Linked DNA regions of Homo sapiens. The protein of the gene in region 1 purifies or fractionates together with the protein of each later gene. This does not show direct contact. Each region holds a gene or a part of one and is shown in the gene's direction. Other genes may lie near its edges.

Region 1 (3,500 bases):
ATCTGACAAGTCTTGTCTCTCTTCAGCCCCTTCCTCTCTTAATTGACTACTTCATCCTCGCTCCTTGGAACATCCTTTCATTGGTCAGCCACATTTTTCCTGCTTGGCCCATCCATCCCCATCTATTTGTCATACCCCATGAAACTTAACCTCATTATGGTTTGCATTCTGGATTCTCCTCTCCACCATCTGGCTTTACCTTGGGGGTGGTGTCGTACATGACACAATGACGTGTTTCGGGCCATATCCTATTGGAACTGGACTTCAGGGAATAACCTTGTGTTGTTTTCCCTCCTTCTGCAAGATGAAAAGCAGGATGTGCATGGCTATCAGCATTTGTCAGATGCTTTCCATGTTGAGTTTTGTGGTCTGTGCTTTCAGGTACAGGCATATGTTCAAAAGGGGTTGGCCAATGGGTACATGTTGTTTGTTTCTGCCCACAGCTGCCCCAGTGCTCAGCTGTGAAGCTGCAACACAGACTGAAAGGAGACTGGATCTGGCTGCAGTGACTCTGAGGAGAGGCTTGAGATCTAGAGCTTCGCGATGCAGACCGCGGTCTTTGATAGATTACAAATCCTACATGGACACCAAGCTGCTGGTGGCGAGGTTCCTGGAGCAGTCCTCTTGTACCATGACCCCAGACATCCATGAACTTGTAGAAAACATTAAATCTGTTTTGAAATCTGATGAGGAGCACATGGAGGAAGCCATCACAAGTGCCAGTTTTCTAGAACAGGTAGTTTTATTATTAATCTCAGGCATGAATCAGATGACTCATTTTCATAGCAGCTAAAGTGGCTTCTCCGCTTTCTTGTCCAAGGCAGAGTAAGTTCATGGTCACAGTCTTCAGGGAAATTGGGTTGAGAGTTCTGGGGAGGGAGACAGAGGAAGCCGGGGAGCTTTCTTTCAAGTGTGGTAACTTTCCCACATCATTCTTGGCTCAAGGGAAGAGAACCCAGTTTTTCTGGGATGTGGAAGCATGTCTGGGAAAATTAAAGAGTGCATCCTAGGAATAAAAGCGGAGGATGTGGACAGTGTGGAGTGCATTCAACATTTGATTTCCTGAATTGAAGGTTTCCTTTGATAGGGCATGTTTTCTCAGCCCTTTGGAAATGATGACATAGGTGAATTTTAATATCAACAAGATTCTAAGAGGCTGTTCACATTCCCATGAAATGTTTGGCAAGATAAATAAGCCAACAGGTCCTAAGGGAATAAGCACCTTTTCTTCTTGTAGATTAAAAAGTACAAGGCAATCCCCGAAACTGAAGCCACTTGGGGAAAAGATAGAATTGGGCATGAACATAATCCAGTTGGGTCTCAGGTTTCTCCTCTTTAAAGTAAATGGTTGGACTAGGTAGTCTCTCTACCTTTATTTTTGAATGAATGGAGTTTCCTTCTGGTAAGAGCCTTCTCTCCACCTCTTTTAAGAGCCATTCCCTTTTAGGTGTTGGCTTCATTGCTGCAGGTAGTGGGGTGGATGTTGTAGACAGCACCCCACAATGGCGTATGGATGTTTTGTGGCTCTGTGTCTTTGGGCATTAAATGGCTAACAAATACTTCCTCAACTGAAGTGGGCTAATTTCTCAGGGTAATTACCAACTTCAGGATGTAGGTAAATTTTCAATTCAAATTGAGTAAATACCCTCTCACTGTCCCTTCCGTTCCCCCTTTCTACCTGCTGGCCTCTTCTTACAGAAGCCAGAAGCCAAACTCTCTCCCAGTCCCTCAGGGGATTCAGCGGGGAGGAATGATCTGATTACTTGCATGAAGAGGTACATGAACCACAGACCCTCTTGGGTTTGCACTCTGAAAGAGTGATCAGTTGACGGTTCCGGGTGAGGCTCCAGTTACTAACCTATGTAGGGAAAACATTTTACATCCTGGTGTCCCTTAGCTACTCCAGATGTCATTGTCTGTCACCTTCCCTCTGTCCGGCCCCAATAGCCCAATAATCAGGAGTCACTTCTGGAAGGCTGCCAAGCTCTGATGAGCTAAGAGCTGGAGCATTCACCAGGTAGTGGGCCTGGACCTTCTGCAAAGTCTTGCTCCCTGAGAAATAGCTCTGGGGAAGAAGAACAAGCACTTATACAGTTCACTAGATGCTATCATCACAAATGTTTGCTAGATCTTTGTGCCCCAGGCAGGTTAAAACTTCAGGTGCTGAGATTGTTGTGATAGATTTTGGGCCATCTCCTGGGCCTTCCAGGACTGGAACCTAGAGGTGAGCTTTCACAATTCTATACCTTTTCCCTGGTAGAAGGAGGTAAGAACACCAGAAGGAGGTAAGGACAGCAGAAGGAGACCAGTTATTTCTGACTCTAGCTGGCTTCGCATCTTGGAGTTTTTAGATCCATTTTGATTTTCACTGATATCAAAACCACTTGTCCTAACTTACTATGTAGCACAGTCAACTTCTTTGAATGTTGAACTTTTATTCTTAATCGGGAGACAAGGACAGACCTTAAAGACAAATGTAATTAGTAGACTGTTAATAAAATTTAATTTTCCTTCTTTGGAGGAATAATCTTTTAATGACCTTAAAGGCTCAGAATGGTACAAATGAAACAAAAAGTCATCCAAATGATTGTGCTGTGATGTTAGGTAACAATAAAGCCCCAAGGTTTTCCGAAGCTGCTGACAGTATTATGGGTCAAAGAAACATGGCAGTGCAATTTTTAAAAAATTGACCGGACAGTTCTCTCCTCTTCAATCCCAGTTGGATGAGGAATTTTTCATATTTTTGCCATTTTTACAGAGTAAGTGATATTATTATATATTCAAAATTATGTTTGTGACACATTGCAAAATAGATCTAGCAAAAAGAATCATTCTTAAAGACTTTTTACAAATAAATTGGCCTAATTTTTATATTGTTTATTAAAGGATTATCAGATCCATTTGAAGCATCATTGGATGGTTTGGGTTGACTGTTTCTTTTTTGAAACAAGGTCTCCGTCTGTCACCCAGGCTAAAGTGCGGTGGTGTAGATATAGCTCACTGCAGCCTTGAAATCCTGGGCTCAGGTGATCCTCCTGCCTCAGCCTCTCAGGTAGCTGGGACTACAGGCACACACCACCACGCCCAGCCAAGTTTTCTTATTTTTAGTAGAGATGAGGTCTTGCGATGTTGTCCAGGCTGGTCTAGAACTCCTGGGCTCAAGTAATCCTTCTGCCTCAGCCTCCCAAGTAGCTGGGACTACAGGCATGAACCACCATGCCCAGCTAATTAATTTTTTTTTTTTTTTTTTGTAGAGATGGAGTCTCACTATGTTACTCAGGCTGGTCTCAAACTCCTGGGTTGAAGTAATCCTCCTGACTCAGCCTCCCAAAGTGCTGGGATTACAAGTGTGAGCCACTGCGCCTATACTTGGTTGACATTTTATAAACCCATCACCTGGTCCCAATCCCAGACCAGTGGTTCTTACTTGGATTCTTGTTAAAAATACAGATTCCTGAGCCTGAGTCCAGGCTAACTGTCCCCATTGCTATGGGAATTCT
Region 2 (3,500 bases), on another chromosome or scaffold:
TTGTATACCTGTGGTCAGCTAGACAGCTTCACCTCTGGAGTAGTAGCTGACCAGTGGCAAGGACCTTCAGGGTGACTGGAGTGTGTGCCTCTCTTTCATTACCCAGCAGGCTGGCCTAAAGTTTTCACATGTTGTTTGAGAGGGTTTCAAGAGAGAGAAGCCTATAAATCATCTTGAGGTATAGGCTGGGAGCTTATGTAGTATCCCTTCCTCCACATTCTGTTAGCCAAAGCATGTCACAGTGCCAGCCCAGGTCCAGCGGGGTGGAGAAGCGGGCTAGTAAGCCATGGAACTTCTCATTGTCAACCCCAAATCACCCTTGAAGACCATAGTCAGATCACCACCTCAGGCTGTGTTGTGTGCCTGTGCTCTGGGTTCCCTCTCTCACTGCATTTAGAACATTATGTGGCCACTGTTGGTTTATTTCTTGGTGGAAAGTGAGCCTCTTAAAAACAAGGACTGTGTTTCAACCCAGGATTTGGCTTGTAGAGTAGGTAACGAAAAGCTGAAGTTGTTATGAAAGTAGAGTTCAGACCACTGATATCTGGCAGTGTGGAAATTGGGATTAAAGATAATGTATGCTCGTGTCTTAAAACTTGCTTGTTGATGTTTAAAAACTTTGGAGCAAACTCATTCTAACATATCAAAATCAAATATTTCTTTGAAAAAAATGGAGGGGATAAAGAATCCTGGCCAGGATTCTGAGTAGAAATCATTTAATACTTGCACACTATCTTTGTAGGTTTTTCATGAGGTTACATGTTTGTTTGGGAAGTGAAGTTAATTTCGTGGTGTGTTTGTCAGAGAAAAACATACCTGTCCATTAACTGATTCATTGGGATTTGGGATAACATTTCTATTCTAGAATGTAAAATGAAGGAAGGGTGTCAGTCAGCATCCTCGATATTACTCTTGAAGATGTCGAACATAAATATTTCTGTTAGAATGAGAAGTAGCATTTGCCTCATGGGAGTTTGTCTTGAAGCGAGTATGTCTTATATATGTACTAATTCTTAATTGATGGTTTTTCACATGCATTTTGTGTTTTAGGTTCAGCCGTCTGTATATCTCCCCAGATACCTGAAACTGACCACCTGAGTACGTTTTCCCATTGCTGAGCTGTTTCCCTGATATCTGGCCATGCAACGGAGATCAAGAGGGATAAATACTGGACTTATTCTACTCCTTTCTCAAATCTTCCATGTTGGGATCAACAATATTCCACCTGTCACCCTAGCAACTTTGGCCCTCAACATCTGGTTCTTCTTGAACCCTCAGAAGCCACTGTATAGCTCCTGCCTTAGTGTGGAGAAGTGTTACCAGCAAAAAGACTGGCAGCGTTTACTGCTCTCTCCCCTTCACCATGCTGATGATTGGCATTTGTATTTCAATATGGCATCCATGCTCTGGAAAGGAATAAATCTAGAAAGAAGACTGGGAAGTAGATGGTTTGCCTATGTTATCACCGCATTTTCTGTACTTACTGGAGTGGTATACCTGCTCTTGCAATTTGCTGTTGCCGAATTTATGGATGAACCTGACTTCAAAAGGAGCTGTGCTGTAGGTTTCTCAGGTAAGGGAGACAAAATTTTGAGGTTGCATGCATAAAGGAAGCAAGGGAGGTGTGGCTGCTGTCATTTTATGAAGTGTGGGTCCCTATCAAATTCTGAGTGGTTAAGGGCTGCTGAGGCTTTGCGTCTTGAAGAGGAGGCTGGAGCATGCAGGGACTAGTTTTTGCCATTCTACATTATGCTGCATTATTCACTCTTAGTCTGCACTAGGACCTGCTGGAAGGTGGTTTTGTAGAAGACATAGTATTGGAAATATGCACCAGCTCCTTATGGTAGGGTCACAGAAAGACCCACAGATGTATTTGTAATAGGGAGTTCTCAAAAAAGATGACTGTGCTTGTGAAGTAGGCTCAGTGTGCTGTCTCTGATTACCAACTTGTCTGCACCTGGTGAGACAGAGCACACTCATCTGCAACAAGTTACATGAGGCAGATTTAGTATTTACAGTTAGGCAGCAAGGGAAAACAGGAGCCTAGGATTCATCGTGAGCCCATCTTCAAGGCTCAAAAAGCTGCCTAGGGCTGTTGGAGTCTTCACTGTGTGTGTTCCTTGCATGCAAATAAGGAACCCCAAAGAGGCAGCCAGGTACAAACCTAGGAATCACATGAATCACTGGGCAAAGCTTTGAAAGACATCCTATTCGGGAGAGGATTAGGCTGTTTCAGCCAGCCCCCTTTTATCTCAGGGTGTTGGATTTCCAGCACATTTCCATAGTTATTCTTGAGAACTACAAGCGAGAAAGGAGGGGGAGAACTACATAGGTCCAAGGCCACCTGGAGAACTGTCCTGCGATGCCTCTGGATGACTTCGTTAATAAATGGACCACACCCTGCTATGGCATGCTGGCCATGTTTTAGGAGCCATGATAATCACTCTGCATAACCTAACCAATTTAATTTATGCAGCAGATCCACATGGAGATGGGATTATCTTTATTTTATTTTATTATTTATTTATTTTTTTTGAGACGGAGTCTCGCTCTGGCACCAGGCCTGAAGGGCAGTGGCGTGATCTCGGCTCACTGCAACCTCCGCCTCCCAGGTTCAAGCGATTCTCCTGCCACAGCCTCCCGAGTAGCTGGGACTACAAGGCACGCACCACCATGCCCAGCTAATTTTTGTATTTTTAGTACAGATGGGGTTTCACCATGCTGGCCAGGATGGTCTCTATCTCTTGACCTTGTGATTCACCCACCTTGGCCTCCCAAAGTGCTGGGATTACAGGCGTGAGCCACTGTGCCCGGCCTTGATTTTATTTTACTTTTTTTATTTGTAGTTTTTTTTCTGACCACCTGCTGACTGTTGAGGGATTGTCTTGATTTTATAGATGAGGAAGCCAAGACCCAGAGAAGTGAGGTTACTAGCACAAGGTTACCCAGCTCGGAAGCGATGGAGCTGGGACTTGAGCCCAGTCTACAGATTAGCTGTGTGATGCATTGTCTCTCACTTTCTTCCTCACTAGTTCCTTTTTACAGATATTTCATGGGACCAAAATTGCCAGCAGGATTTAAATTAGGCGTTCTAAATATTAGAATGTGAAGGGGAGGAGAGAGGTAGTCCTGAAACAAGGAAATCTAATCCTTCCTTCTGCTTTTCCTGACATCCTTCCCCTTTCCTTCCAAGATGTATCCTTATGCATCTAATTGTGGGAGAAGAAAGAATATATGCCCTGTCTTCAACATGTTTTTCCATAGAGGTTAGAAAAATACATATTACTGGTATTTTTATTGAGTTAAAATTTATATAGCATAACTATTTTGTAGTGCACAGTTCACTGGCGTTTAATACTAATAATAGTATTTTATTCACATGGTAGGTATTATGTATTTAGTAGCATACTGAACACCAATATGAACTTCTATATTTAGAAACATCAAAGGAGTGACTGCCTTTAACGTTGTCTTTTTACCAAATGCAAGGTTGTAAGGAA
Region 3 (3,500 bases), on another chromosome or scaffold:
TATGTTCAAATTGCAGCCAATAGTTAAATGTACTATATCTGAACAGCTCTTAGAACAGTGTCTGGCATGTTTTAAGTACTGTACAACCATTTATTAAAGATATAAAAACAAAGCAATATCCTTTTTCTGATACTTCAACACAATACATCAGGGATTCCACTTGGACTCAAATGTAGCCAAATACCAGGTATATTCTTTTACTTTTTGACCTTTGGTCTTTTTCCTGCAGCTTCACCTACTTCTAGTTTATGGGATTTTTTTTATGTTCTAGGCCCTGTGCATAGCACAGCAACTCATCCCCACTCTGTCCCTTTAGAGTGGGCAGATCATGAGTATTGTTCCCTGGGTAAAGTGTCTGACTGCCAGACCCACTAGATGATCTCGACCTGGACCTAGCAGTTCCTCTCTGTCTTGTTAACTGCTGTGCTAAATATTCCACCCAGCGTTTTCAGCTGTCTTCAGTGTAAGGCTTGCCCCAAGTTACCTTTTGTCACTATTGGAAATGAAAATTCTACTTCATGTGCTTTATGTAGTTTAAATCATATCTTCACAAGACCCTAAAAAGGAAACAAGTGGGTTTTCTTAGTTCTACAGATGAAGAAAAATGAGGCATGGAGAGTTTAATTTTCTTGTCATGGGTCATAGAGTTGATGAATAATAAATCAGATTTTGAACCCAGGAAGTGTGGTTACAGAGCTCATTCTGGTCCATTTTGTGCTGCTGTAACAGAATTCCACAGACTAATTTATAAAGAACAGAAATTGATTGGCTCACAGTTCTGTAGGCTGGGAAGTCTGAGATCAAGGGGGCTGGCATCTGGTGAGGACTTTGTTGCAGTGTCACCCCCACGGTGGTGGGGGAGAGAGAGGTGGTAGGGAGAAACAAAAATGGGGCGGGGGGGTTAGAAACAAAAGGGGGCCAAACTTTTATAAGGAGCTCATTCCATGCTAATAAACTCCCTCCTGTGATAATGTCATTAATTTGTTAAGTCTGCCCTTGTGGCCTGATTACCCTTCAGTAGGCCCCACCTCTCAACACTGTTGCATTGGGGATTAAGTTTCTAACATGATTTTTGGGGGACATATTTAAACCATAGCAGAGCTTGTGTTCTTAACCTCTGTGTCTACTCATTTTCTTCATTTCACAAAGCAGTATAAACTGTTTTGTCATGAAAAGCATTCTTTTTAAAAGGTCAAACAAGTCTCCATCTTTGCATGCTTCCCTTACAACTTTGGGCACAGCTTGGCAAAAGCCTAGGCATCTAGAATTTAATATCCATAAGTGTAGTATATTCTGTATCTTTTGAAATGGCCATGTAATATAGATATCAATTTAGTTCACTATTTTTATGGATTTAGACATAGCTTCACAAACATCTCAGTCTTGCAGAGAGAAAAAAATTATCTGAATTTTGCCAAAATTGCCTGTGTTGTTTTATTGAATTTGGTCAAGATATGCAGGGATGACGCATACACATCCAGTAATTGAACCATTTGAATGTCTGGTATGGAAACCAAATTTTTAAAATCTGGAATCTTCAACTCTGAAAACTCGTATCAGTGAATAGGACTCAGAAAGCTCAATTTGTATGCTTTTATGAGCCAAAAAGTACGTGGGATTGTGTCAAAGCAGGATACTGTTATTTACCTCAGATGACTGAAACCACACCAGGACAGCCAAGGGCCTTCCAGGGTGCCAGGGCATCGAAGTACCCTCCACGGCATTCTCTTGGGGATCCAACACTTACATGTCACCAGCAGCAAGAGCTGCTTCATTTCTTCTATTCCATTTGCTTGACCAAATGCTGATGCATTTCTTTTTCAGGTCCACGCTAGTTTGATTTTGTTATTAATATTGTTTTAAAAAATGCCTTTTTCTGCCTTTGGTAAACTAAAGGTCTAACATATATTCCAACTTCTTTTGACAGAGGAAAAGACAAGCATACGAATCTAACCTTATCTGTCATGGCCTGCAGTTAGAAGCAACAAGATCAGTAAGTACTGGTCCCTTTTCAGCCCTCGGCTGACCACTGTTCTCGGGCAGCTTCGTGCCACTTGGAATACTTGGGTGACATTGGAAACATGCAGCCCTGGCCACATCTTAGTCATAGACTGGGAGAGGAGTCAATCAAAATCTGCATTGTGTAGGATGTATTCTTTTTTTCTGATCAAAACTAGCAGATCTTTTTTAATAGCCAACGAATTTTACAATGAATGCATGTATGAATGATTATTTTCTTTCTTTAAGAAACTTCTAAAAGCTTTTTTGTTATACAAAAAATAGTTTATGGTAAAAAATTAGAAAACATAAGAATAAGGAAAATAATCTGTATCTTAATTATCCATAAATAATTTTGCAGTCCTTCTGAGCTGTTTTACTCAAAAATATATATGTACACATTTTTTATCTTTCAAAAAGGAGAAAATTACCACTTCACAGTTTTATAATTTGCTTTTTCCCTTTAATATATAGCAAATGGATTTATGTCAATAAATATAATTCTTTGACATTTTTAACAGCCACATAATATGATATTGAACAGATAGACAATAAGTTCATTCGAGGTTTAGAAAATTAAAAATTTTTCATTATGCTAGCACTACAATGAATATTCTAGTGTTTTTACTTTAAGTCAATAATTAGGGTAGAGTGATAGACAAATAAGTTTGGTTTTCTTCATTTTATAAATTATTTTCATAGTTTTATGAACTATGATGATTTGAATTACTTCCTTAATGATTCAAACCAAGAAATCGTCTTTAAGACAAAAATTTATGATGGTTTGCAAATCTGTTTTTATTGTTATCTTCACTTTTAGTGGTGGTCTCTGTATTGTTTTTTTAAAGCTACCAACAACATAAGAAAAATCTATGTGTTTTAAAATTGTGAAAAGAGTTGGTTTCTTGTTCTGCGTTTTTATTTTTCCAATATAGGTATTGGATGACAAGCTTGTATTTGTAAAAGTACACGCACCATGGGAGGTGTTATGTACGTATGCTGAGATAATGCACATCAAATTGCCTCTGAAACCCAATGATCTGAAAAACCGGTCCTCAGCCTTTGGTACACTCAACTGGTTTACCAAAGTCCTCAGTGTAGACGAAAGCATCATCAAGCCAGAGCAAGAGTTTTTCACTGCCCCATTTGAGAAGAACCGGATGAATGATTTTTACATAGTTGATAGAGATGCTTTCTTCAATCCAGCCACCAGAAGCCGCATTGTAAGTCTAAACCAAATTTAGTTGCTGTCTTGGGGTAATTTGGAACCTGCTGTTTTGTGGTTTGGTTGGTTTGGTTTTATTTTTAAAAACTGCACAAAAAGAAAAGAAATATGCCAGCAGATTTGTGTTACAGTAGTAAACAATGATTGGATTGGTTAATTACACTATATAAACCGCATACTCTATTTTGGAATCTTTTTAGGTTTACTTCATCCTCTCTCGGGTCAAGTATCAAGTGATAAACAATGTTAGCAAGTTTGGGATCAACAGACTTGTAAA
Region 4 (3,500 bases), on another chromosome or scaffold:
TGACATTATTAAAGTTGGATGAATGAGAAAAAGTGAGTTGAATGCTTTCTCTTCTTAGAAAACTTTGATTGCTATGGAGATGCACATGACTGACAGTCCTGAACTTCATGTGTGTTTAAGGCCTGGATACCATGGCAACAGTTATTGTGAAAGATTGATGATTTTACTTAATCATGTTGGACCCTACATACATTTGCATAAATGTTCCTCTATAATGTTTACCCTTCACAGAAGAGCCTAGATAACATTTGAAGTGTACATGTTAATGATAACCTGTAACCATAATTCTTTCCACATTAAGGATGAACTACTAAGTAGAAAAAAGAGAGAAAAGAAAAAAAAGACTGGCAGCAAGAGTGTGGATGTATCAAAACTCGGTGCTTCAGAAAAAAATGAAAGGTGAGAGCATATAAAAATACTTTATAATTTGAAGCTGTTTTAAAATACATCTTTAATATGATTCAACTTCATATGTATGTCTATTTACATGTGCTCTCATTTATATCTGTGGTAGTCTTATAAAAGACTAATAATGTGCCATTGTTTATGAGACAAGTTCTAATCTTAAGCAAAATGTCTTCAGGTTTTTTCCCCCATATAAAGTGTGACTATATATTTAAATAATCCCTCAAATTCTTCTAGTTTGAAATTTTTATACTGAACTTTAGAAACAAAGTACTATTAGACGGACCTATCACTTAGCTCAGGAGTGACAGTATGTAGAGAGGCAGTGATATGCAGTACACTCAAAAAGATACCACCATTTCTTCTATTGATTCATAGAAAGGAATAAAGGGTTTAAATAGTTCACACAGCAGGGCATGAACTGGGATCAATGTGGGATGGAGATCAGAGACTATTCTGCCTGTCATCTATTCTGATGACATCAGTGAGTAATGCTTCAGTGAACTGCAAATGACATTAATTTTTATGTATTGGTTTGTTTATGCTACAGTCTTCATATCTGGTTGTCAGCACTTGGGAACACTCTGATGATGGTTAGTTTTTTATAGCTGAAGTAATCATAAGGCTTAAGAATTCGTTGTACAAAAGTGATGAAAAGCCCAGGTTAGAAAGAAGGCTTTTGTTTATCTTTGTAACTTGATTAGGAGCCTCCTTCCCCAAAATCTTAGCCTAGATTCTCTTACATGCTATATATATTGCATTTGTTGTGACTACTGTATTTCATGATGGAGTAAGTCAGTTATAAATATTTCAGTGCATACTTTCTTCATTTTTTTTGTTGAAGTAGCCATTCACAAAAGAATTCATGATCTTTATAGAATTATTTTGCCTCCCAACTTTCTCTGTATATTCCTCATATGTTGTATGGTGTTCTTTTTTCTCCCTCCCTTTAGATTGCTGATGAAACCACAGTGGCATGATTTGCTTCCATGCAAACTGGGGATTTGGTTTTGCCTTACACTAAAAGCATTACCTCACCTCATCCAGGTAAAATGTACCTCTTTTATATAACATTAGATCTTTTATTTTTAATCACTCATGAAATAATTTATGCCCATGTCGGCTCTCTGAATGCTGATATGCAGTGGATGCTTTATAATGTTGATTGAGTAGGATTTTTATAAGTTAAACCTAATTTAGATAATTCTAAGATAATTTAGATATGTTTCTGTAATTATCTTTTATAATGGTTTTAGATCACCTTAGAGTCCCAAGATGCTAGAAAAAGAAAAAAACATACTATCTTTAGTACAGAGATAAAAGCAATAAAAATTTAATCCACTGTTATCATTAAAAGCATAACCAGTAAAAAGGAACAGTATTCAAGTAGCTTGCCACCCATTATTTTAATAGCATTTAAGTACATAGTGTTAAAAAAAAAAAAAAAAAACTTTACATGAACATCTGTATAATTGTACCAAAATATATATTGCTTTCCATTTTATTTGCAAATTTAAGAGGAGTGAGGACATTTTGTCTTATACAGGTAATGAGTTTCTGTTTCTATTTAGTCTTGATTAAATAATAAAATGTGGATATGTATCATATTTAGATGTCAGTTTCTTTTATTTTTTTACATTTAGTATACCAAAGCATATTTTATTAAATTATTGCTTTGTTAATTTTGATTTTTGCATCAGGTTTGAAAATCCCCAACACATAAATATTTGAAAGTAAATAAAACACTTTTTGGTGTACAGATTTTGAGGTTGAGATTGTAATTTTTTGGAGAGAAATGTTTTATTTTAGAAAATAAGTGTTTATAATCTAGAGGACCAGATAATATTCTAATTCAGTTCTACCCACTTTGTAGTTATATATTAGAGCTATTTTTCCTGATTTTTTAAGGAAGCTAATGACTACAACTTCTGCATTTTCCTTTATTTTTCTCATAATGAAAATTTTATATTTAAAGGGGATATTGAACCAAAATACTAGTGTGCTTCTTTTTATCCTTTGAGAAATTACCAGTTCTTCCATCAAAATAGTTCATCTTAATAGTTATTGCTTATAGAATCTTATATTTTGTTTACAGTTAATAGAGAAAAATTACAGTATTTTGGTAATTTAAAAGGTTTGTTTTTAAGTTGTTTAGTGTGTTATATTGTTTGCTTGAAAAAATACTCTGCAATGTTTGTATGCTGTCTGTAAGACTTAATGAGGGAGGGAAAGTCTTTATCACACTGGTATGTTTATGAGAAAATGAGGCAGAAAATATTTTTAGGGCAGATTTTCTTATTTTTTGAAGTCTGATTATTTTTTGCCAACTTTAGAATCCGTGCAATAGGCAAACCAGAATATAGATGAGTTAAAAAGTATATTCATGAGGCAGTATAAATAGAATATTACATAAGATATCAATATTAAACACTTCTTTGTAATTTTAATCTAATTTGAAATAAAATTTATTTGGTAAAATTAACATATTTCTTGTTTAGCATGCAGGGTAATTTGCCAGACTAGAACCAACATATTGTTATGGCTTAGATTTATAATTTACTTTAAAATACTTGCCTGTGATAGCTGTTAATTCATGTAATAGATTGATTGTTTTGCCTCATCATAAATTTGTAGAAAATATACAAAAATGAGGAATTTTACAGAAACTTTTTAGTTTCTTTAGAAACTCTGCTTTTTTTAACTGATCACTTTGAATTTTAAAGTTTTTACTTACTTGATGGTATCTGCTGGCCTTTCGGTTTTGAGATGCTAGGCATTAGGGTTCCAAGACCTTTTAAATCTAATTTTTAAATTTTATTCTAATTATTTCTTCTTGATAAATGGATTTCAAGAAGAAAATTAAGATGATTTTCCTTTTTAAAGGAAATATTTGATATTTTTATTCTGCTGTGGGGACCTTAGATTAGTGTTTCTAGTGGTCACTAACAAAATAATGTAATGCAGTAGACTCTTTCAAATATATATTATAATACTTTAGAAAGTACTTTAGATTGATTGCTTATGAAATACATTAGCAAAACAATACTGTTCAGTTGCTCTCAGGATTAGATTTTTGTCGCTTTTTGTTTTGTAGT
Region 5 (3,500 bases), on another chromosome or scaffold:
AATTCAGATTGGATGTGTGCTATAGCTTCTTCTGGCTGTTTTCTCTTTACCTTTTCTCCCCATTTGTATTTCAATTTTTGTCTTTCTGTTCCATTATGAGAAGTTTCTTTACCTCTGTTGTCAAGTTCACCCATTCTCTTTATAATTGTATCTAACTGGATGTCAAATCTATAAATAAAGTTTCTAATTTAGTTATGTTACATTTTTATTTTTGAGATGTATTTTTTATGTTATCTGGATCTATTTCAATAGTTTCTTGTGTATTATACTTTCAATTCCCTCTTATTTTTAAAAACATATTAAACATAATTGCCTTATATTTTGTATCTGCTCACTTAAATATCTGCTGTCTTTATAGATCTGATACTGTACTTTATTTCCTTCAGTTAGCTTTCATTCATAGAGCTTATTTTCTCATATGTTTAGTGATTTTTGTTTGTGTCTGTGAGATCATGTTCTATCAATGCATTATAAGTGGGAATTCTTTGAGCTCTGAGTTTTAGAAATATCTCTCCAGAGTTTTGAGTTTGCTTCTGCTAGCCTGGGACCAATTTAAAGTAAAATTTCAGCATATGGCTTTTTAGGCCACACAGATAATGTAAATTCTGGCCCCAAACCTGTGTGAATGGGGACTTTTGGTTAGGAATTATTCAGGAGAAACTTTTTTACTCAAGTCACCTGAGCCAACATCAAAACACTGTTTACCTCTGTGAAGTTTACTTCTTCCCAGTTCACCCATTGAGTTTCTTCTGTTTTCCATTTGTGACTGTTGAAACCCCAAACTGTAGGCCACCAGGGATCAGCATATACCCTCCGAACAAATAATGCTTCAGTGCTCTCTTACCCCAGTGGGCTCACTTGGCATCGCTGTTGCATGTCTCCATGGAATTCCTTTACTTCCTTGCTAGCTTTGTCTTACATCGTGTGTGTGTGTGTGTGTGTGTGTGTGTGTGTGTGTGTGTGTGTATCCAGCATTTTTAGTTATGTTAAATTAGTAGAGGTTTCTGTCAGCATCTGGTAAGACACATTGCAAAAACAAAACAAAACAAAACCATAAACTAATTTAAATGTATTTTACTATAAGAATCAATAAACTCATATACAACTTATCTCATAAAACTTGCAGTATCTCTGTGCAAATTAACTTTTAAATATGCAGTTAGTTACATGCCCCCCAAAATCAAAACATATGTACAGTAAGAGAAAAAGATAATTTGGTAATATTGAATATTAGTTCATAAAAACTGAAAATAGGGACCAGTAATGTAAAACTGAAGAAATGTGTAAATGCTCCTTTTGATATCTCTGTGCAGGAAAGTGTTCAGGATTTAAAAAAGAGAATCATGGTACTCGACTGCCAATTACGAAAATCAGAAATGGCTCGAAAAACTTTTGAGGCATCCACTGAAAAGCTTCTTCATTTTGTAGAGGTAAGTTTTTCTGTTCTATTACATTCATCTTTAAAAAATATATAGGCAACTGGCATATAGATAAATGTTACTGTATTTGGTACCTAGTGAAACATTCTCTAGTCTCAAAGCAGCAATGCTGGCTTATGGTCAGATTTAGAACTGCATACATGATGAAAAGACTGGCTAACATTTTATAGATTGTTTAGAGAAATAATTGAGACAAGGTGATGGGATTCCAAGTATATACTATTTTAATGAATACTTTACCAAAAATCCTGATAATGCATAAACATTATTTGATAACTACTTACCTTATAAAGAAATGTTTTCATAGCTGTTATATTTCTGAGTAAAACTGCATGTTAGTTCAATTGTTTGCACCCCCGCTACATAATAGAAGCATCAGTTTAATCCGTGGACAGAGGAGGTTATAAATATTAATGAAGAAAAGATATTTTTTAAAAACTGTCAAACTGATATATCTCCTTCACCATCTTGTTTGTTGCTAGGCTATTCAAGAAGTATTTTCTGATAATTCTACTCCTTTATCAAATTTAAGGTAAGAAAATTTAAGTGCTTTTTGCAGAATATGGGTAGTGATTAAATTCTTCATCTGGTCATTGTGACTCAAATACTAAAAATCTCTTAAATAGTCCTAAGGTGCTACATAACTCCCATTGGATGCCATCATATGGAAATAGATGCAAGGACATATTGTTTTGTGTCCCATCTCTGTTAAAGAAATTCCTGGAGGTATTTAGTCAATCATTGTAACCTTGTAATCTAAAATTATGGTAGAAACCACCTATCCTGTCTTTATCAAAAATTCTATAAAGATGAGATTAACTTAAAATTCTGTAATTGTCTTGCGTATGAATCAAAGTTACTGGTCACAGGTTCACTACTAAAAGTGTCTCAACCCAGCAGGTTAGTTGTTCTGGCAAACAGAATTTTGGAAAACATATTCATGCAATCATTTTCTTTCGTTTTCATCTTTCAGTAGCTATAAATAAAAGAAATATATTTGGAGAATATACCTCGATTGTCTCATTATTCATAATATGTTTTGGATTTAAAGTTTCTTACTAGAAGCTGGAAACATACTAATCAAATTTATTTATTTCAAACCACAAGTTTATGGTCATTTTGATACATGATGAAAGACATTTACAAAAGAAAGATTCTTGTTTATGCATTTCCAAAGTAATTTTTTTCTGCTCTCATAATAGCTGCCACTAGTCCTAGATACATCTTCTACTTCTAGCAATATACGCTTGCAGAAACAGGAAGACTCAATGAGGTTGGGTGTGATGGTGCATACCTGTAATCCCAGTATTTTGGGAGGCTGAGGCAGGGGGATCACTTGAGCCCAGGAGTTTGAGACAAGGAACATAGTGGCACACAGTGGGACCCTATCTCTACAAAAAAAAAAAAAAAAAGAAATAGCCAGATGGGATGGTGCATTCCTATATTCCCAGCTACTTGGGAGGTTGAGGCAGGAGGATTGCTGGAGCCCAGGAGCTCTAGGAGATTGAGGCTGCAATGAGCTGTGATCATACCACTGCCCTCCAGCCTGGATAACATAGTGATGCCCTGTCTCAAAAAGTAAATAAATACTCTACCCTTTACTGTGAAAACAGCAGCTTAATAAGTGAAGATATTTTTGGTGTCCACATAGCATTTTTTAATTTAGAAGAATATTTATAATTCACTTCTAAACTCAAGTAATGTTTTACTTCTTATGATGAAGGAACCTGACATAACTTCTTACTCTCCTTGCTGCTTATGATACAAGAAAACTCTGTGAATTTCATGATTATTACTCTCAGTAAGGATCTTAAAATAATCAGTAATCACATTTATTTCTTTATGGGCTAAGTGTGTCACCCACCCTCAGCTTTCCAAGGTCTTAGTTTTACCTTGACTAATAATTCAAAAGTTTTGTTTTAAAAATTAAGGTTAAAATGACTATTTAAAAGCCAGAGCCTGCCCTTGCCTTAAACTGCTTCATGGAAAAAAAGACAACTTTAAATAGCTACATCACGCAACATTTCATGGTGTCTTAGTAAATTAAACACTAGTAAAAAC
Region 6 (3,500 bases), on another chromosome or scaffold:
GTGCTGGGATTACAGGTGTAAGCCACCGCGCCTGACCGAAAATACACAACTCTCAATCTCAGTTTTCCCGTCTGTGTATTGGGAAGGGTTGTTATGAGGCTTAAATAAAATTATACTTATCAAAGTACTTGGCATAGTAAGCACTTAGTAAATGATAACTATTATTGTTATTCTCAGTAAAGTTTACTTATAAAAGTTTTTATTTTGTTTGTTAGAAATTCCCTTGTTTCATGTCTTAAATGCACGGATTACATTTGGAAATGTTAATGGCTGTAGCACTGCCGAAGAATCTGTATCTCAAAATGTGGAAGGGACCCAGGCTGATTCAGGTAAAAAAATAAATAAATACAAAGTTTAGTTTTGTTATTTAAAAAAAAATTTATGGCCGGACGTGGTGGCTTATGCCTGTAATCCCAGCACTTTGGGAGGCCGAGGTGGGTGGATCACCTGAGGTCGGGAGTTTGAGACCAGCCTGACCAACATGGAGAAACCCTGTCTCTACTAATAATACAAAAATTAGCCGGGTGTGGTGGCGCATGCCTGTAATCCCAGCTACTCGAGAGGCTGAGGCAGGAGAATCGCTTGAACTGGGGGAGAGGCGGGGGGATGGAGGTTGCTGTGAGCCGAGATTGTACCATTGCACTCCAGCCTGGGCAACAAGAGCAAAACTACATCTCAAAAAAAAAAAATTATAATTCAGTCATCATATTCATAATTCACTCTGAAGCTGGAATATCTGAGGGAGTAGATGTCTGTGTTGGATGAAAGAAAATTTCAGATTTAGTTTAGATTAAGCAAAAAAAAACTTGTAGAATATATATGATCCTAGTTATATTAAAAAGAAAGGATGTTCTTAAAAATCAGCTTTATTGAGGTGTAATGTACATACAATAAAATGCTCTCATTTTAAGTGTGATGGTTCAGTGCATTTTTTTTTTTTTTCTCAGAGTCTCACTCTGTCACCTAGGCTGGCATGCAGTGGCACAATCTCTGCTCACTGCAGCCTCTGCCTCCCAGGCTCAAGCGATTTTCTTGCCTAGTCTCCCAAGTAGCTGGGAATACAGGTGCGTGCCACCATGCCTGGCTGATTTTTGTATTTTTATTAGAGACTGGGTTTCACCATGTTGGCTAGGCTGGTCTGGAACTCCTGACCTCAAGTGATCCACCCAGCTCGGCCTCCCAAAGTGCTAGTGTGAGCCACCATACCCAGCCACATTTTGACAAATGTATGCATCTGTGTAACCACCACCATAGTCAAGGTAGACAGCATTTCCATATGCCCCCAAATTTCCTTACACTCCTTTGCCATCAATACAATTCATGATTTTAGATGCAATTGTAAATGGACTTATTTTCTTAATTTCATTTCCAGTTACTAGTATATAGAAATATAATTGAGTTTTGTATTTTGACCTTGAATCGTTTTTAAAAATTTTTTATCTTTTTTTTTTCTTACACAATTGCATGGCCAGGATTGACCTTGTTTATCTTGTAACATGGCTGAATTTACTTGTCTTACACTTTTTTGTAGATTTCTTAGAATTTCTTACATATATGGTCATGTTGTCTATTAATAAAGAAAATTTTACTTTTTCCTTTCTAATCTTTAAGCTTTTCATTTCTTTTTCTTGACTTACTGGACTGGCTAGGACATCTAGTACAATGTTGAGTAAGAGTGGTAGGAATGGCTGTCCTTGTCTTGTTCCTGGTTCTAGGGGAGGAAGGATTGTTGTGCCATTAGGTATGATGTTAGCTGTGTAGGTTTTTTATAAATGTCCCTTATTAGTTGGAGGACATTATTCTCTTATATTTCTAGTTTGCTGAGAGTTATTACCATTTTTAAGTATTGATTTTTGTGAGATGTGTTTTCTGCAACTATCATGATGGTCCTATGTTTCTCCCCTGTAGTCTACCAGTAGGAGGAATTAAAAGATAGCATTTTAATGTATATAAATTAAGACTTCAAATAAAAACAATTGAACTCGACAATAATATACACCTTTACATTCCCATGTAGCAACAAAGTTGGGTGAGATGTGTTCATGAGGTTGTGCAGCTAAGGAACACTCGTGCACTCTTGGCTGGAAGAGGAGATTGGTATAGTTCCTTGAATAAAACATTCGGCATTACTGTATAAACTGAAGATGTGGATGACCTAGCAATTCCTAGATGTGTACCCTAAAGAAAGTTATGCACATGAGCATCTGGAGACCCCAGTACTGGGCAGCAGCATCCATTCATAACAGCAGAAACCTGGAAACGACCCAAATGTCCCGAGATGGTAGAATGCGCTATTGTGCTCTATTAATACAACAGAATAACATATAGTATTGAAAATAAAAATTTATAGCTATGTGCGTCAAAACTGTTGAATTTCAAAAGCATAATGTTGAATGAAGAAAATCCAATTTGAAGAATAAATTCCGCATGATTCCATTTATGTCGAGTTCACAAACAGGCTAATACAAACTATTAGGATGATATACATGTGGCAAGCTCCAGAGAAGAGCTAGGCAGTGTAAACAACTATTCTGAATTATGTATTTACCTCTGGAGAGGAAGAAGGGAATATTGTTAACAAGGGATGTGCCCGCAGTATGGTATTGATAGTGTTTTTTTCTTTTTCTTTTTTTTTTTTTTTTTTGAGACAGTCTTACTCTGTCACCCAGGCTGGAGTGCAGTGGTGCGATCTTGGCTCACTGCAAGCTCCGCCTCCCGGGTTCATGCCATTCTCCTGCCTCAGCCTCCCGAGTAGCTGGGACTACAGGTGCCCGCCACCACGCCCGGCTAATTTTTTTTTTTTTTTGTATTTTTAGTAGAGACGGGGTTTCACCATGTTAGCCAAGATGGTCTCGATCTCCTGACCTTGTGATCTGCCTGCCTCAGCCTCCCAAAGTGCTGGGACTACAGGCGTGAGCCACCGCGCCCGGCAGTTATTGATAGTGTTCTGTGTCTTAGGCTAGGTGAAGGGCACACAGGCATTTGTTTAATTATTATCATTTTTAAGTGTTCAGATATTTTATATATACTTTTATATATTTACCATATATCTTCCTGCAAAAGGAAGAAACACATTGGTGTGACTGTGCGTATATGTTTAGGGGGAGAAATCTGCGCTTTTCATTTTATAGTCTTGTGTATTTTTTTATGACTGTGTTCGTTGTTTCCACTAAAATCAAGGAAAAAGAAAAAAGCTGTATTCTGTCACTTTTTTCTGTCATGCTTCCTCAGAATCTCTCATATAATAGTAAGCCTTGATTGTTATAATTTTGAGCCTTTCTTTTTTTTCTAATGTACAACATTTTTGCAAAAAGTTGGAGTGGAAATGTAATGAACTCAGACACTGGACGGTTGCCTTTTGTTTCAGCTTCCCACATCACAAACTTTGAGGTTGATCAATCTGTGTTTGAAATTCCCGAATCTTACTATGTTCAAGACAATGGCAGAAATGTGCATTTGCAAGATGAAGATTACGAGATAATGCAGTTTGCCATCCAGCA
Region 7 (3,500 bases), on another chromosome or scaffold:
CGCTCTTGTCACCCAGGCTGAAGTGCAGTGGCTCAATCTCGGCTCACTGCAACCTCCGCCTCCCAGGTTCAAGTGTTTCTCCTGCCTCAGTTTTTCAAGTAGCTGGGATTATAGGCGCACGCCACCGCACCTGGCTGATTTTTGTATTTTTAGTAGAGACGGGGTTTCACCATGTTGGCCAGGCTGGTCTCGAACTCCTGACCTCAGGTGATCTGCCTGCCTTAGCCTTCCAGTGTGCTGGAATTACAGGCATGAGCCACCATCCCTGGCCGTGCCTTTCTTTTTAAATGAGGGGGTTTGGACTCTACAGTCTCTCTGAGTCCTTTTAATTCTGACATTTGAGATGGCTGTCAGGCGGTAGTTTCTTTTACTGCTGGTTCTTTGAGAGCTGGTAGATGTGTGCACTCATATTTTGGGTGCCCGTGTGTGCTCATGTGTGATTCTGGGGACTTAGCCTCTAGCAAACTACCGTGTCCCAGCCCAGCCTGCCCCTGGGAGCCCAGGAGCTAACCTCCCTGACCTGTGAATGTGGTCCTTTTCCAGATCGATTGAAATACGAATCCCAGAAATCTAAATCCAGCAGCGTGGCTGTCGGAAACGACTTTGGCTTTTCCTCTCCTGTCCCAGGTAACTTTGCCTTCTGGGGAAGAAAACCTAGAGGCATAGTGGGGAGCTCACACCCAACTTTGCTTTGCATATTTGGAGTTTGAGAGGAGGGTGAAAAAACAGATTGTGGGAGGGGGCCTGGGCCTCCTCAGCAGGCTGGCGGGGCTGCTTCTGCCCCCATCTCCATATCCAGTCCATTTAGCAGCTCTGGGGTCTTTCCAATCCAGCCACTGCTGGGCTTCAGAGCCCACAGTTGTGTTCAAGTAACATAGGCTGGCTGAACTCTCAACCTATGCCTCGAGTGTAGGCTAGTCAATGACACATGGCCAGGTGCGGTGGCTCACGCCTATAATCCCAACACTTTGAGAGGCCGAGGAGAGTGGATTGCTTCAGCCCAAGAGTTCAAGACCAGCCTGGGCAACAAAATGAGACCCCCCTATCTCTACCAAAAAAGTACTAAAAATTAGCTGGGCATATTGGCCTGTGCTTCTAGTCCCAGCTACTCAGGAGGCTGAGGTGGGAGGATCACTTGAGCCCAGGAGGTTGAGGCTGCAGTGAGCTGTGATTATGCCACTGCACTCCAGCTTGAGTGACAGAGTGAGACCCTGTCTCCAAAAAAAAAAAAAAGAAGAAAAGGACCCCAAAATGCCCCGTGGTGGGGCTCAGAGACTCATAAGTCTTGGTCTGTGTCCTGGGGAAGCTTATGGTCTTGTAAGGAGAAATGCCCAGAAAACAGGTAGAACAAACTAGCAAAGCTGAGGACTTACTGATTTTAGCAAATGCATGGGAAAAAAGGAGGGCAGGATTAATCTGGGGAGTTTACTCATTCATTCATGACATAGCTGGAGAATATCTGCCATCTGTTGGGCCTTGCCCTAGGTGTTGGAGGAAGAGGAATTTCTAGCTTTGTGTACAAGGTGGTGGGAAGTAAGAATTGCCTGTAAAGAGGGCCAGGCCCTTCTGCTCAGAAGCTCTGATGGCTGAAAGAGGGTTGGATAGGGGTGAGGGGGCTGCAGTGCTCCTGGGATGCGCAGACTACTGGGTTGAGCCACAGCTGGGAACGATGACCTGGTGCCTGTGTGCGAACAGTGGCCCCTCATCAGTCAGTGCCCCCTGCCCCACATGTACACAAGCTGCCCACCTCGGAGAAGGGCTCTTGCCTGGAATAGACCTTGCATCATGCAGTGGAGTTGGGGGTGGAGGAGCAGAGGGATGGGGAGCTGAGCTGATCCCAGCTTGAAGGGAGAAAATCCTGTGGAACTGACTCATAAGCAGCAGGCTGGGAGCTTAGGGCTCAGCAGATGTGCAGCTGGGAGTTTTAAGCAGGAGCCTCTTGTCCTTGATCCTGAATTAACTAGAGATACCGGGGCTGCTGAGATGGATCAGAATGACTCAAAGGGGACTTAGCAGGCAAGGTGACTGGGGATTAACCAAGTTGCAGGACAGAGAGCAGGGGCTTCAGAAACCAGCAAAAAACCCAAGTGGATGCTGAGCGAGCCCGGGAGACTCTGGGTGGCCGGTGGGGTTCTGACTCCAGGACTAGTCCCATTCTATTCCTACTCATTGTCTAATAGCCAGAAACCCTGTGGCTGGGAGGGAGCAATGGATGGGCTTACCTGGCAGGAAGGACAAGGGACTTGCTACAGGTGAATGCCGGCTCTGAGCCAGCACCTCATTTGACTGTCACATGAATGTCGGGGTGCAGGAGGCCCCTGGTGTGCTGGTGAATGTTTCACAGCCAACTCTGGGTGCAGCGGGAGCCTGATATGTAGTGCTTGGTGACCTCCATGGTGGAAATACTCCCAAGCTACCAAGGTGATGTCATGAAACATGGAGTTGGTCAGAGGCGTGGACAGTTGGGAGCACACACGAGCTGGCTGTCTGCACACACAGTAGACCGCTGAACCCTCCCCATTTTTACAGAGGAGGAAACAAAGTCCACAAGGGGAAAGAGGAGCTCCTGGAACTCCACATCCTCCTTGCTTTAAACTCCCTTCTGGCCAGGGAAGAAGCCTGCTCTTTCTTTGCATTTGTCCTCAGATGGGTGGGTAGGGCTGGGACAGCGGCCATGGCTGGCCACGGTGGCCGGCCTTCAGCAGGTGTCTCCTTCCAGGAACTGGCGACGCCAACCCCGCTGTGTCTGAAGATGCCTTATTCAGGGACAAGCTGAAACACATGGGAAAGTGTGAGTCCCACTCAGGCCCCGCTTCCCTCCCCAGCTTTTCTGAGACAGGCCCTGTGGCCTCCCAGGAGTGAGGGAGCCCCTCAGCACATGTAATGCAGCTGACTCTTGGTGAACCAGTGACATTTTCATCGCAGGCTGGCTCCCTCAGCCTTCCTGCCTCACTTCCCTCTACAGCTGAGTCTAGATACAAATTAAGTTTTAAATCCTCTTGAGCCAGATGTCTGCAGAAAAATAACGTGCCACACATGCCCTCACCGCAATCCTCATGTTCACGTTCTCTGTGGCTCGAGGAGGCTTGGCCGGAGCTGACTGCACAGAGAGGCCCTTGCTAAGCCTCTGTGGGGGTGGGGGACCTCTTTCCACAAAGTCCTACCAGCCTTGAATGCCCCCTTCCCTCCCCCTCACCTCCCCGCCACACAGACCCACAGCCATGTGTGAATGAGGCTGCGATCCTTTCAGGCTCCATTTCAAGGAAAATCTCGGATTAGTCATGGAAATCCCAGAACCAACTTTGGAGGTGGCTAGGGGAGGGGCGGGAAGGCGGTGGCGGCGGGAAAGCGAGCCAAGATGCGTTGCAGTGTGTTGCAGCTGGGGAGGGAATACTTGGATCTTGAGCCGCCTGCGGTCCCTGGGCCTGGCTCAGGGTGTCCTGTGCTGCCCCTGCAGGCTGACCCAGGATGTAGCCTCTTGCTCCTGGGGTGGCGTCCTC

Evidence for each region.
Region 2: the proteins of ENTREP1 (region 1) and RHBDD1 purify together in Homo sapiens (affinity purification with mass spectrometry; 3 studies listed by BioGRID and IntAct, with this or other methods). This does not show direct contact.
Region 3: the proteins of ENTREP1 (region 1) and ANO6 purify together in Homo sapiens (affinity purification with mass spectrometry; 3 studies listed by BioGRID and IntAct, with this or other methods). This does not show direct contact.
Region 4: the proteins of ENTREP1 (region 1) and DNAJC1 purify together in Homo sapiens (affinity purification with mass spectrometry; 3 studies listed by BioGRID and IntAct, with this or other methods). This does not show direct contact.
Region 5: the proteins of ENTREP1 (region 1) and STXBP4 purify together in Homo sapiens (affinity purification with mass spectrometry; 3 studies listed by BioGRID and IntAct, with this or other methods). This does not show direct contact.
Region 6: the proteins of ENTREP1 (region 1) and ANKRD13A purify together in Homo sapiens (affinity purification with mass spectrometry; 3 studies listed by BioGRID and IntAct, with this or other methods). This does not show direct contact.
Region 7: the proteins of ENTREP1 (region 1) and CUEDC1 purify together in Homo sapiens (affinity purification with mass spectrometry; 3 studies listed by BioGRID and IntAct, with this or other methods). This does not show direct contact.

The regions. Positions count from the first base shown.
Region 1 is NC_000009.12:69,387,715-69,391,214, forward strand, and holds part of ENTREP1 (endosomal transmembrane epsin interactor 1), read left to right. Parts: intron 1-443; coding exon 444-736; intron 737-3,500. UniProt on the Homo sapiens protein: Functions as an activator of the E3 ubiquitin protein ligase ITCH in the ubiquitination of the CXCL12-activated CXCR4 receptor. Thereby, triggers CXCR4 endocytosis and desensitization, negatively regulating the CXCL12/CXCR4 signaling pathway.
Region 2 is NC_000002.12:226,863,554-226,867,053, forward strand, and holds part of RHBDD1 (rhomboid-related protein 4), read left to right. Parts: intron 1-1,050; 5' UTR 1,051-1,140; coding exon 1,141-1,573; intron 1,574-3,500. UniProt on the Homo sapiens protein: Intramembrane-cleaving serine protease that cleaves single transmembrane or multi-pass membrane proteins in the hydrophobic plane of the membrane, luminal loops and juxtamembrane regions.
Region 3 is NC_000012.12:45,345,095-45,348,594, forward strand, and holds part of ANO6 (anoctamin-6), read left to right. Parts: intron 1-1,927; coding exon 1,928-1,993; intron 1,994-2,933; coding exon 2,934-3,221; intron 3,222-3,423; coding exon 3,424-3,500. UniProt on the Homo sapiens protein: Small-conductance calcium-activated nonselective cation (SCAN) channel which acts as a regulator of phospholipid scrambling in platelets and osteoblasts.
Region 4 is NC_000010.11:21,916,731-21,920,230, reverse strand, and holds part of DNAJC1 (dnaJ homolog subfamily C member 1 precursor), read left to right. Parts: intron 1-301; coding exon 302-399; intron 400-1,358; coding exon 1,359-1,452; intron 1,453-3,500. UniProt on the Homo sapiens protein: May modulate protein synthesis.
Region 5 is NC_000017.11:55,076,765-55,080,264, forward strand, and holds part of STXBP4 (syntaxin-binding protein 4), read left to right. Parts: intron 1-1,313; coding exon 1,314-1,430; intron 1,431-1,921; coding exon 1,922-1,971; intron 1,972-3,500. UniProt on the Homo sapiens protein: Plays a role in the translocation of transport vesicles from the cytoplasm to the plasma membrane. Inhibits the translocation of SLC2A4 from intracellular vesicles to the plasma membrane by STX4A binding and preventing the interaction between STX4A and VAMP2.
Region 6 is NC_000012.12:110,030,430-110,033,929, forward strand, and holds part of ANKRD13A (ankyrin repeat domain-containing protein 13A), read left to right. Parts: intron 1-215; coding exon 216-329; intron 330-2,017; exon of another isoform or gene 2,018-2,281; intron 2,282-3,367; coding exon 3,368-3,500. UniProt on the Homo sapiens protein: Ubiquitin-binding protein that specifically recognizes and binds 'Lys-63'-linked ubiquitin. Does not bind 'Lys-48'-linked ubiquitin.
Region 7 is NC_000017.11:57,868,413-57,871,912, reverse strand, and holds part of CUEDC1 (CUE domain-containing protein 1), read left to right. Parts: intron 1-543; coding exon 544-627; intron 628-2,719; coding exon 2,720-2,791; intron 2,792-3,500.